Linked DNA regions of Homo sapiens: regions 1 and 2 are each reported to be linked to region 3. The links are microRNA targets in miRTarBase. Many come from high-throughput screens and were not tested one by one. Region 3 holds a microRNA gene; each other region holds the end of a gene's coding sequence.
Evidence for each region. Region 3 holds the annotated microRNA hsa-miR-3127-5p (AUCAGGGCUUGUGGAAUGGGAAG, at 2,546-2,568, opposite strand). A microRNA usually pairs through its seed, bases 2 to 8, with sites in the 3' UTR of a target mRNA and lowers its output. Matches are read on the target gene's strand: a 7mer-m8 pairs with bases 2 to 8, a 7mer-A1 pairs with bases 2 to 7 and ends in A, and an 8mer does both.

Region 1 (4,192 bases), not on the chromosome of region 3:
CTTTATCTGGATTATTAGCTCTTCTAGGCCAAGGATCAGCTCTTATCATTTTATTTTCTCCTTCCCTGAGTTTAGCATAGGGCTAAACATCCTAAGTAAATAGAATAATTTAATGCATCTCATAGCAGATCAATATCAAGCCACCATGATTATCCTTAGTAGGGTTGGGATGCCTTGGGTGTAGATAAAGGTAGGAATGTGGACTAGTGGAGAGGCTGGTAGCAGGGGACTTTGGAAACAGAGAATTGCTACTAGGAGAGAAAAGGACAAGAAACATGCCCAGGCCGTCTCACCAAGTTGCAACCCCTGAATGATTGCATCACGCTACAAAGCATGAGAATTGTAGCTAACAGCTGGTGACTAATACTTCGTTTTCCTTTTAATGCCTTCACAGGGTCAGCGCCAAACTGGAGGGGAATGAAACACTAAAAGTTGTAGAACTCGACAGAAGAGTGAACACCACTTTCTAAAGAGGCTGCCTGCACCCCCTCCCTTTCCCTTAACTCTACTTTTACATCCCCAAACCACCTTTGTCATCAGCTTTTCCTCTTTGCCACTGGATCTTCATGGAGACATGGGCAAGCATTAGTGGCTTCAGATTGGAGACCAGCCTGGGACTTCCCTGCAGTGAGAGAGCATCTCCCCCTGGTCCATGCCCCTCCTGTGCAGAAGGGAGCCTGCATCCCTCCCTTCCTTTCTCTTACTGCCATAGGAAATTATTTTAGGGGTTGGAGGTGGGACAAGCAGGCTTGTTTCCACCAATAGTGCCAAAAAGATATTGCCTAATGTGCACCTGTGAGGTGTAACCCCCCGCTTTGGAGACGAGATGGCTCTTGTTCAGTCAAGACCCCAGACTCTGGCCACAAAAATGCCATAATGCCTGTTGGTATTTGGCAAAGCACTGACCCGTGTCCTCCGTTGCTCGCACTGGGGTCTCTGGTGTGAACACCCCCGACAGCAGCCCTCCGCCCACTCTGCCCCCTGGGAGCCCTCGCTGGATCGTCTCGTCTCCTGCAGCAGCACTGGCAGGCGAGGGCTCTCGTTCATATTCTCAGGCCGCAAGTGCAATGCCTGAGGGGATCAGGCTTTTCTACTCCAGGCAAACCTGCCCCATCTTGTCGCTTTTAGGACCTCCCACAACCTGGTTCCCCACACATCCATAGTTCTGCCTCCCCAGCTTCTCCTCCCCAGTTGTAAATAGTATTTATTAGCTTGCCGAGGCTTCCTGCTAGCAACCACACTGAAGAGATCGATGCCTCCTTTCAAGCTAGCCAAGTTTTCTGCGAGCCTTCAGAGCTAGGAGGGCACCCTAGGCTCTGGGATCCCGTGTCTTTCCAGACAATGTTTTGTTTCCTTTCCTTTGTTTTTTCTTTTAACTGGAATAATTACCATTGAAAAAGAAGTTCCTTTGAGCATGTATGTGTCTGCCTCTAGGATGAGCTCAGAGCGAGAGATGACACAATGCCTCACTCAGGCCCCGGGCTCCCTGGCCACAAGCTTTTTCTATCCTGTTTTCATGACAGAGAAGGGGAAGCCCTGTTCTGACAACAGACATTTCAGACAACCTTGCTGGCTTTCCACACCTGCCTGGCCCCCTCCTCCCTCCACACTTCCACTTTGTCCTCCTCGTCCCCTACCTCAACAAAGCAGGGTGGGGTAGGTGACATTTGTGTATCCACATTCTTACCTTTGGTAGTCAGGTTTGGCTACTTTGCAGCTCGCCCAAAGAGATACAACCTAATCCCCAACCTACTTTTAGTTTTTTTGTTTTTTTTTTATGGTTAAAAGTAACTTTTGTAGTTTAAAAAAATCTTTCCTCTTTCATATAAATAAGAAGTGGAAATTGCCTTTTTATTGTGTAATGTAGAAAACCCTCAAGTGTTTTTTCCGAGCTTGGGAAAGATTTTGTGTAGGAAATGTGCATAGAGTTTGTATTTTATTTTTATTAGCAGCTGAAATGCCTTTGGTTTTGGCTTCTCTCTCTCCCTCTCTCTCTCTGTCTCTCCTTCTCTCTCTCCCCCCACCACCCACCCCCACACACGTCATCTGCATTGTTATTGGAGCCTGTACTTAGAGGGATTAAGCCCACACCCTGGCTTCCATTCCATATCAGGTACAGGATTTGATGTTATTAACATTTGTCGTCATACCTCATAAGTCGGTCCCTGCCTTGTCTGTCTAGGCCCATTTGGGGCTCCCTGTGAGTGATTCCCCTCTCTCTGCTATGCTGGAGACGGTTCCAGCCTGGAAAGCGGCCAAGTTCATCTTCTCACTGTGAGTGGAAGCTGGATCGGGCCCCCGTAGTCCTGGCAGCCCTGTTGTCTGGAGGGTTCTTGTTGTCCCTCCCATTAGCCAGGGCGGAGACTGTCTGAGCTGTGCAGGAGGAGGGTTGCTAGTAGGTTCTGCTTCTGCTTCTCTCTGCTCCACTGTCTGCAGCCCAGATCCTGTTGGGCCTGGCTGGTGTCTGGTAACCATGGGCCTCCACTGACCCATCCCTCTCTTTTAAACTGTCAGGTCATTATCAGGCATAGGCAGCCTATAGGGCCCAAAGAAGGCAAAAAGATAAGATTTACTCAAGTAGCATTTGGGCAATGAGGAAGGAAAGGTTTCAAATTTAGGGGCAGAAGTGAGAGAATGAGCCAACCCATGTACCTGCTGCAACTGAACCAGACTGGGTTTTCAAGGCTCCCAGACGTAGAGTAGGAAACGTGCTCTTCTAAATGAGGAGGGAGAAGATAAAGGAAACTTCTAGCCCCTGTCCTTAGTGCTTTGAGGATTTTATTTTCTCCCTTACTACGCTTGCTTGACGTCACTCTCTCTCGACCTCCAAACAGCAGGACTCTTTCTCTGGGAAACCATCCTTCCAAAACGGAATCTATGTAGACAATGGGACGTTAGGCAGAGAGCTCAGATGGCCCTTTTAAGGGGGCTCCAAGAACCAACATCACTGCTCTTTTAGATAAACCTCTGCCCTCCACTCCTTGCTTGAGTGGGTTAAAGGAACTAACAGTTGTCCCTTTAGGAGGACAAAATGGGGTCAAGAGGACACAGAAGAGTTGTATAGCACCAGATTGGTTCCAAATAGTTAATGGATGTGTGCACATTTTCTGTTCAGGGATTAAGACCAGAATATCAGTGGATTTGTTTTCCCCACCAAGTGGCCTCTTAGACTAGTCATTAACTTATGATTAGCTCTAAAGATTTCAAATAGTGGCAGACAGTGTCTTCTGAATGTAAGTTTTGAGAAATACGAGTCTGTCAGAGCGGCCATAAGCCATAAAGAGTCAATCTCTTAATTATATTTTTCATCATGTAAACAAGTTTCCCATTTCCCTTTCTTAGATTGCACCAGTGAAGGAGATGTTTTGCAAAGATTCAGAGAACTAATTTTTCACTGGATAAGACCTGAGTAACCCAGACCCCCCACCGTGGTTCTTTTCACAGCCCTCGACTTTGCACTTAAAAAGGGATATTGTAAATGAAAGGCTGCAGTGCCAGTTTTAAGAAAGAATTTCTGTGAAGTGTGAGGACTCTGGAGTCTAGCTCACATAAAGAGAGTGTTATATAAAAATCCGACAGCTGAACTAGGTTGCTCTTTTTTGGCAGGGAGTGGGGATGAGATTTGACACCAATATGGGCAAAATTAGATAACCTTTTGGTTAATATAAATGATTTTGATTTGGAGGCCTAATTTGTAGATTGTGAAAGCAGCTTTTAGTTTAACTTATTCACAGACCCCTTATAATTACCATGTTTTTTTTTTTCTTCCTAAATCTCTTGGTTCAGCTTGTGAATCTTACGTGCCCGTAAAGTTGGGATGTTGAATTGGCTCTTCTTTGTTCTGGCAGTGAGTCAAGTGTCCAGCATTTTTTCATAAGTGTTTTTTAAAATTGTTCTCCAGCATTTTATGGCTCCTCCCTCCCATGTCCTCAGACCCAGCAAAAGCGTAGAGGCAGAATTAGAGGCCTCTCCAGGCCAGCTCCTCTGCCCACATGTCATACAAGGTGTGAATTTGAGCACAGTCCAGAAATGGAGACATCCCACCCCCAGTTGAATAATGGCCCATTCATGCCAACCTTGCCAACACGGAGAGGGCAGAGATGCACTAGAAGACCTTCATCCTCCCCTTCCTCTGCCCCAAGTCACTACAGTTGGTTCTATTGAAGCCAGTCTTTAAGAAACCTGGGTTAAA
Region 2 (4,192 bases), not on the chromosome of region 3:
ATGAGATGAAGTCTCTGTTTTTCAGGCAAGTTGACAGAACAAAACAATGAGAAACGAACTTCTTTAGAAGGTTGAATGAAAGTAAGATCTAGATGAAAAAGTCATTGGCCAAAGATAATTTTTTAAAAAAAACATTCTATGTTAACCCTTGGAAAAAAAAACAAAAAACAACCCAGAGAAATACAAGAAAACAATGTACACATTCATTTCACTGACAGTTACAAGAAAATAGCCGTTTATAGAAGTTACACAATGCTTTCAACAAATCCCAAACAAATTTTGGGAAACAGATAAAGCCATTGGGTAAAAATAAATATACATACTAGCTAATATAAAACAATTTATGGTTACGAATTGTCATCAATTCTCTTAGGACACAAGGAGAAATATGGTGATATAAATCTGATGAGGGCTACATATATTACATGGAATTAAAAAACAACTGATTAAAACATCCTAACAATGATACAAATATTTAAAAGAATGTCTTAAAAGTCAGACATTTACCACTGGAAATAGCACGACTTTAATATGTACTCCAGAGTTGTAATGTGTATACAGGTCACTTTCGCTGTGTCTCATCAGGTATCCACCTCTCCTGCATTTACTAGTCAGTTTTTTAAGAGTTCATGTTTCCTGTGTGAGCTGAAGGGGCTGGGCACATTTCAATTTAAAAAATACACACCTCCGATTAACTAAATGGAAGTTTTTTACATCTACCAACAGATAAAGAAAAGAGAGGATAATGGGAAGACAAAACATTGTATTAAGGTAGAAGGAAGCTGGATAAATTGTCTCTGTAAATTATCTTAAATTTTGTATTAACAAATTTAAAATGACTCAAATAAAATAACAAAGAAAAATATATTAATTTGGCCTCAAGGAATTTTCTCAAGCCATAAAAAATTTTCTTAGTTTATTTCTTTACGGAAGTATCTTATGCTTGATCAGCTGACTTAAAGGAACTCTCCTAGTGTGGGACTGAAAACAACTTTATCATTGATAAAAGATGATTAGTTTAAAAAGTTGGTTTTTATTATTGAAGTGCCCACAGGCACAAGAGTATAGGTGCTTACATTTCCCTTTAGATTATGGGAAAGCCCTTTTGAGAATGCACTAAATCAGGAAATCTTTCAGCAATCAGAATGCATGCTGAAAGTTCAGATCTTTTAAGTTTTGGGTTTCGCTGTTTGAGCATAAAAAGGAAGGGAGCAGGGAGAAATGTAACTAGGTTCACAATTTTGAGCAAGAGCATATGTAAAGGTAACGTATGTACATTTTATTTCAAGAAAGACAGAAGACAAACAGCATAAAGATGCCCAGATGCCCTAAAGATAAATACATTTCAAAGATTCTCATTAAAATGAATCTGTAGTATTTTTTTCCTGCAAGCAAAATACCTTTCTTTAAATAAAATTAAAAAAATCAGTATTCTGAATTGCAAATGCTTTTGTTTTTTTTTTGCAGAAAATCTGCCATGATTATTTTTTTAATGAATAAGGATTTTCCACAAAACAGGCTTGCTCTACATGCTAGATTTTTAAACAGTTCAGTGACACAATATGCTAACTACATACACAACAGATAATATAGTAAGAAAACACTCAACCTGATGAAAAGTTAAAATCTTCATTAATACACTGAAAATTGACATAACTCATGCCTTTAAAATCAAAAATACAAAAATTAAATGTTTTCCTAAAAAGATTTCCTTATTTTAAGGATTCATTTGAAAATGAAGCTGCATGTAATTTGTACAGTAAGTTGTACAAGTAAACAGGTAATATACATAAAAAATTAATTGACATACTCCTCAATTATCAGTTGTCCACCTTTAATTTCCAATACTGTACTTTCTTAACAAGCATACAAAATATCAAACTTCTCTTTAGAAAAAGTGCCGTTCTTTGACATCCTTTACACAAAAACAGTCTGAGCCTGTGGCATGTTAATGCAGTTGAGAGGCAAAGCATACGAACTTTTACAAATTCTACCTTCCATAAAAAGCCTCCCGAAAAGGAGATTACACGCCACTATAAAAATATCAACCTCTTGTGGTAGCTGCATTAGAGAACCAAGGCTTGAAGACTATTTTCATATAGCATAGAAAAACCACTATGAGAGCATATTAACTGCATTGGTGGCTTGGGAGTGTACTGTGCCACAGGATTATGCATAGCTACTGTTAGGTACCAAGACTGTTATACAGTTTTAAATTGATTGTAACTGAGAGCATAACAGAGGTACTACCAGCCCATGCAAAATAACTAAAAATACTGAGTCACTGTGCTGAATACTTCATTCCTGGAGAAAACCAAAGGCAGCAGTAACTAAATCAAGCCAAACAGGTGACCAAACTTTCTCCTCAAAGATTTGTGAGCACAGTGAAGTCTGAGGTATACCTTTATCCATTAAATCTGTGTGCCATTGCAAGATATTACCATTTGAGAATATACGCCATCACAATGGTTTAAATCTTTTGTATATTAGTCATTCATATATTCTTATCTACCCAGTCTCTTGATTTTTGAAAAGATTTCACCTACAGTAGAATATTACAGAAACAAAATATAAATGCATGTCTTTCTAAATGAAACTTACATAGACTAAAAGTAGAGAATATTTTTAAACAAATATACAATGTGCAGGCAGACAAAGCAGGAAAACGGCCATTCAAATGTATAATAAAAAACTAAAAATTGACTATCTCCAGAAAACTATGAAGCGCCTCAACTAAAAGGAATGCATAATGAAATTCTAATCTAATACAGGTCAAAAATGTAAAAAGGTTATAAACCTTAACAGGAAAAATAAAACAACTTTTACTGGCCATTCCTGTTGAAATGAGAATCATAAAGTAACAGAAAAGTGGCTACAAACCCACTTAGAGCACCAAACAGAGAGAAAATAAAAGTCCATTTTCATCTCTGTTATTATCATAAAATCCTGTGTGACTACAGGTCAAACTGCTGGTGGCAGAAACAGAATTCTTTATAAACTGCAGATGTCCTGTACATAAAAAATTTCACTGGAGTTGCACTAGTTCTAAAGACTCTTCTGTTTTAGCCTACCTACTATATGTATTCGATCTGAGATAGATAAAGTCTCTTTCTGTAACCCTTAATTATTATTGGGCACCAAAGATAAGAAAAGCAAGACGGGGTACAAAAATGCAAAATTTCAACAGTAATGGCAATGTTTTTGTCTTAGTCCAAAAGGGTCCTGCATTCTCTCCCCCTTCAGTGATTTGACAAGTCTTTGTACTTAATCTGGGGGCAGCAAATCATGCAAGCGAAATCTGTCTCTGATGTGTGGTCGAACATCTTCATTCTGCGTGGAAAAAAGACAATTTTTAAAAAGGCATAAAATTTCAAAGATATGATCCTCATAACATACATTCTTACCTTGCAGAGAAAACATACCAGTTTTTATTTTATGACATATTTTATTTGCCAAATAGAGATACTACACAGATGCAGTTAAATTTAAGATTTTGAAAAGAATTTCGTTGAAGATTTCTTTTTTAAATTTTTGTTTTTTCAGACAGAGTCTTGCTCTGTTGCTCAGGCTGGAGTGCAATGGCACAATCTCAGCTCACTGCAACTTCTGCCTCCTGGGTTCAAGCGATTCTTGTGCCTCAGCCTCCAAAGTAGCTGGGACTACAGACGCCCACCACCATGCCTGGCTAATTTTTTGTAATTTTTGTAGAGGCAAGGTTTCACCATGTTGGCCAGGCTGGTCTTGAACTCCTGACCTCAGGTTATCTGCCCACCTTGGCCTCCCAAGAAGATTTGTTTGTTTGTTTATTTATAAATGAACGAATGAATGAATGAATGACAGGGTCTTGCTCTTTCACCCAGGCTGGAATGCAGTGGCACAATCCTGGTTCACTGGAGCCTCAAACTTCTGGGCTCAAGCAATCCTCCCACCTCAGCCTCCTGTGTAGCTGGAATTATAGGCACACACCACAATGCCCAGCAAGCTTGCTTGCTTATGTATGTATGTATGTATGTATGTATGTATGTATGTATGTATGTATGTATGTATGTAGAGATGAGGTCTCACTATGTTGCCCTGGCTAGTCTCAAACTCCTGGCCTCAAGCAATCCTCCCACCTTAGCCTTCCAAAATGGTGGGATTACTGCTGGGTGCAGTGGCTCATGCCTATAATCCCAGCACTTTGGGAAGCCAA
Region 3 (4,192 bases):
CTCCCCTCTCTTCTGGCCACACCAAGTGGGAACAGAGAGACTATGGGTCAACGGACAGAGCCTGGGCCCTAACCGGGCCTCTGAGGCTTCACTGCACAAACAGTGCCTGGGGGAAGCCTCCCGTGCCTGCCCGCCCTTCTGAATGAGATTTCCTCAAACTGAACAGAGAACAGCTGCTCTTGGAGGCACAGGAAGTCATCCCCAGGCCTGAGGCATCTGATAGGGTTAACCTGCTCAGAGCCCCGCTCTGGGGCCCTGTCTGTCCCCTGCCCAGGGAGCCTGCCATGCCCCACTCATCTGGTGGAGGGGCCGAGGACATGGTGGATAAGCCAAGCTGGGTGTCAGTATTCATGGGTGCCCTACCCCCGTTCCCCCTCGGGGTCCTTTTTGTCAAAGGACAGTGAGAGGCACAGCACAGAGGTTCTCTGGGAGCTGCAGCTCGTACCCCACTGGCGTGGCCTGTTCTCCAGCACCAAAGTGGACTTTCTCTCTCTACCCTGCAGCAACCTCGCCCCAGGACCGAAGCCTGGAGAGGAGCGAGGAGATGAGCTGGCGAGACCTGGGCCTGCGGGGCCTTGTCTGTGGGGCTCTGCGGGGAAAGCCTGAGCCACTCAGCACAGGAGAGGGCACTGGGGCGGCCAGAGTGGCGCATCCCCGGACCTTCCATAACACCTCTCGGAGGGTGCCCAGTCTCCCTTCTGTCTGTCCCCAAGGCCCTTTATTCCATCGGAGCTGACCTCTAACCAAAACCCAGTAGCCGCGTCCTCCGAAAAGCCAAACCCATCTGCAGCCTGCCCTGGCAAACAGGCCCTGGCCTGGCTCCTGACCCCAGTCACTTTGGATGCTCAGACTCCCCTCCTGTCCTCAGGAGCAGGGCCCTGGGCCTTCCTCCCCACAGGCCTCCTCTCCAAGCAGGCTGGTCTCCTCACAACCTCTGGACATGCCCTCCGCTGCCTCCAGGCCTTTACTCTAAAATCCCTCACTCCTCTTTTCCCCTCCAGCTTCTGGACCCCATCCAAAGTGGCAGCTCCCTCTGCTCTTCCACACCACCCGCTCCAGGCCCTGGCGGCTCCCGCCTCACCAGCCTCCCTCTGCCCCAGCCAGCTGGCTATGAGCTCTCGGGCCCATGCTCAGTTCTGGTGTCGGTCCATGGCTCCCCAGCTGCAGGGGGGCCAAAGGGCAGCAAAGACCATGCCCAACAACTCACCGGAGGGGACCGAGGTCAGGGCCATAGTCCCATAGTAGGAGAAGGCGCCCGTCTCAAACTTCATGTTCTCCTTCCCTGCCTCCACCTCCACCTTCCCCTGAAAAAACACAGGGCTGGAGTTAGAGACCAAGTGAGGGAGGAAACAAAGGATGAGGCAGGATGGGGAGTGAGGAACAAGGGACAGTGGGGCAGGAGGAAGGGCCGGTACTGGAGCCCTGGAGAGCTCAGGGGCCTGACCTGTGAGATCAAGAGTGGCCTCTCAGGGAGAGGATGGCCACGTGGGGCAGGCGGGGCTCAAGGGCAGGCAGCAGGCTCCCCAGGCAGGGAAGCCATGCACCTCCGCAGCAGGTGGGAGAGAGGGCCTGGGGGTTGCTGCAGTGCCAGGGGGAGCAGGTGGCAGGCCCAGGGCTGAGCGGGCTCACCTGCAGGATGAGGATGAAGTAGTCGGCCGGCTTATTTCGGGTGTACAGGTAATGGCGGGCGTAGTACTTATTGTGCTCGTCAAACTTGAGTTCCTGAATGACATCTGGGTACTTGAGTAGCCGCAGCAGGATCTTCTCTGATATCAGGGAGGGGCTAAACTGAGAGACCTCTGTAGGAGGAGAGAGAAGAGACCTCACACGGGGCTGGCCAGGTGGCCCTAAAGCTCGATCACTGCTGTGCCTCCACCCCAACCACAGCAGCCACGCTGTGCTCAGACGACTCCCGCCCTGCTCGGCCGGCCCTCGTTCTGCACCTCCCTGGGGAGGGAGCACGCTTGGCTTCTGACTGGTTGGATACAAGGCTGCCTGCCTGCCTGGGCTTGAACAGTGGCTCCTGCAAGAACAGCACATGACCTTGGGCAAATTACTTAACCTGCATCTCAGTTTCCTCATCTGTAATATGGGGGTAAAAGCTTCACAGGGTGGTTGTGAGGGTGAATGGGATAGCACATGGACAGCACTTAGTATATATGTGCTGTCCATATATACTAAAATATATAGACTATAATTATTGCATCAGCATCAATATCCCACAGGAAAAATAATGGAGAGGGAATTGCCACCCCTTTAGCAAGTAAGGGGTGGGAAGGAAGATGAATTGGGCCAGGGGAAGAGGGGGACAGAGCGGGCAGAGCAGAACCTGTCACCCAAGTCCCCAGTGGAGCTTTGAATCAGGGCTGAAAAGAGAGAAATGTCTCTGAACTAGAAGTGAATTCCTGCGGGAACCAGCACACGTCTGCAAAGGGGAGAGCTGGAGAGTAAGAGCAGAGCTGGATGCAAGCTCCTCAGAGTGGGTGAGCACACGAGGGGTCCAGCCACACCCAGCAGGCCTGCAGAAGGGGAAGCGTCCCTTCTCCTTCCCATTCCACAAGCCCTGATGGGCCTGGCCAGCCTAGGGGCCCACCTCAGTGGTTATTTTCTTTTTTGTTATTTTTGAGACAGAATCTTGTTCTGTGGCCCAGGCTGAGTGCAGTGGTGCATTCACAACTTACTGCAGCTTCAAACTCCTGGGCTCAAGCGGTCCTCCCACATCAGCCTCCTGAGTAGCTGGGACCACAGACATGCAACTGTCCCACCTCATAGCCTCCCAAGTAGCTGGGACTACAGGAGGGCACCACCATGCCTGGCTTTTGTATTTTTTGTAGAGATGGGGTCTCGCCATGTTGCTCAGGCTGGTCTCGAACTCCTGGGCTCATGCAATCCTCCTGCCTCGGCCTCCCAAAGTGCTGGGATTACAGGTATAAGCCATAGTGCCTAGTCATTATTTCCCAAACTATTAAATATAGTAACTTGGATGCTTCCTAGAAGTTTGCAGTAGCCGCCCATTAATGGCAAATGAATCGCAGGGAGATCCCCAGGGGTGGAGCAGATACCCGGCCCCTTCCAGGGGTGGCTGTGTTGTCTCTGCACCCCTCACCTGCTGCAGCCCTCGTCCTATGGGGGGAAAGCAGCCGGAAACCCAGGACTTCTCCCCCGTGACCGTATTTCCACCAAGACCGGAAGGTCCTCCTCATGCTACCTGTGGCTAGGAAGCGATGAGCGGCCAGGAGGAGCTGCGGGGAGATTTTCACTTTGAGCTCATTGTCCGCATCCTTGAAGGCAGAGAAGTCACGCTTGTTCTTCTCAGACACCCGCTTCCGGCTTCGGTTGTCAGCTGCCGGAAGAAGAGCGTGGAATTGAGAACACAGACCCCTGAGGACTTAGGAAGAGACTGGAACCCGCCCCGCAGCTCCTGCTCTCCAGCCCCTAGTCCCACGCAGGAGCAGCAGGCTCTGGCTGGCAGGGTCCTGGGCTGACGCCGAGGCACAAAGGCCGAGGGTGAAGGCAGCCTCCGGGCACTGCTCTCAGCAACCTGCTCCCTGCTCACCCCGGCCAGTGCAGGGCACCCAGCCACTGGGCCTCTGGATGCTAGGCCTCCTGTGTCCCTGCACTATGGCCCTTCCAGCTAGGGACACCAAGTTTCGATCCAAGCAGGAAAGGGGTCCTGGGCCCTGTGGAAGGCTGGACTCACTGTACATGTCGGACTCGTCCAGGATCTCCGACTTGATGATCTCCTCGATCACGTCCTCCAGGGTGACCAGGCCCAGGACCTCGTAGAAGGGGTCACCCTCACCCTCGTTGTTTACCTTCTGCACGATGGCCAGGTGGGACTTCCCTGTGGGACAATGCAGCAAGTCAGACAAGAGCCCAGAGGCCAGTCATGAGACTCCCTCAACCAAAACATTAACTCTAGACGTAGGGTCATAAGTCACCAGGATGGGGTCATGGTGGTTTTTATCTTTTCCATCTTTCCTGACGTTTCTACTGCAAACAGACATTGCTTTTATGAAAAGGAAAACTAAAAGTAATTTTTAAAAGCATGTCGTTAAGGACCACTTTTTTGTTTTTCTCTGTTTTTGTGGAGGAAGGACAGGGTCTAGCTCTGTTACCCAGGCTGGAGTGCAGTGGCGCAATCATAGCTCACTGCAGCCGCCAACTTCTGGGCTCAAGAGATCCTCCCACC

Region 1: miRTarBase lists CREB3L2 as a target of hsa-miR-3127-5p. The part of its 3' UTR that is shown has no 7-base or 8-base seed match.
Region 2: the mRNA of CTDSPL2 is a reported target of hsa-miR-3127-5p. The part of its 3' UTR that is shown has no 7-base or 8-base seed match.

The regions. Positions count from the first base shown.
Region 1 is chr7:137,876,754-137,880,945 of GRCh38, reverse strand. It overlaps CREB3L2 (cAMP responsive element binding protein 3 like 2), which reads left to right. Exons shown (of 12, transcript NM_194071.4): 12 at 395-4,192. The coding sequence ends at 470. Among named protein-coding and RNA genes, the nearest start is that of DGKI, 32 kb to the right of the region's middle. RefSeq lists enhancers at 848-1,581, 1,582-2,313 and a silencer at 1,329-1,623.
Region 2 is chr15:44,523,247-44,527,438 of GRCh38, reverse strand. It overlaps CTDSPL2 (CTD small phosphatase like 2), which reads right to left. Exons shown (of 13, transcript NM_016396.3): 13 at 1-3,330. The coding sequence ends at 3,265. Among named protein-coding and RNA genes, the nearest start is that of EIF3J-DT, 12 kb to the left of the region's middle.
Region 3 is chr2:96,796,664-96,800,855 of GRCh38, reverse strand. It overlaps MIR3127 (microRNA 3127), which reads right to left and starts at 2,578; the gene lies at 2,503-2,578. It overlaps CNNM4 (cyclin and CBS domain divalent metal cation transport mediator 4), which reads right to left. Exons shown (of 7, transcript NM_020184.4): 2 at 3,701-3,844; 3 at 3,209-3,343; 4 at 1,630-1,799; 5 at 1,208-1,304. RefSeq lists an enhancer at 1-145.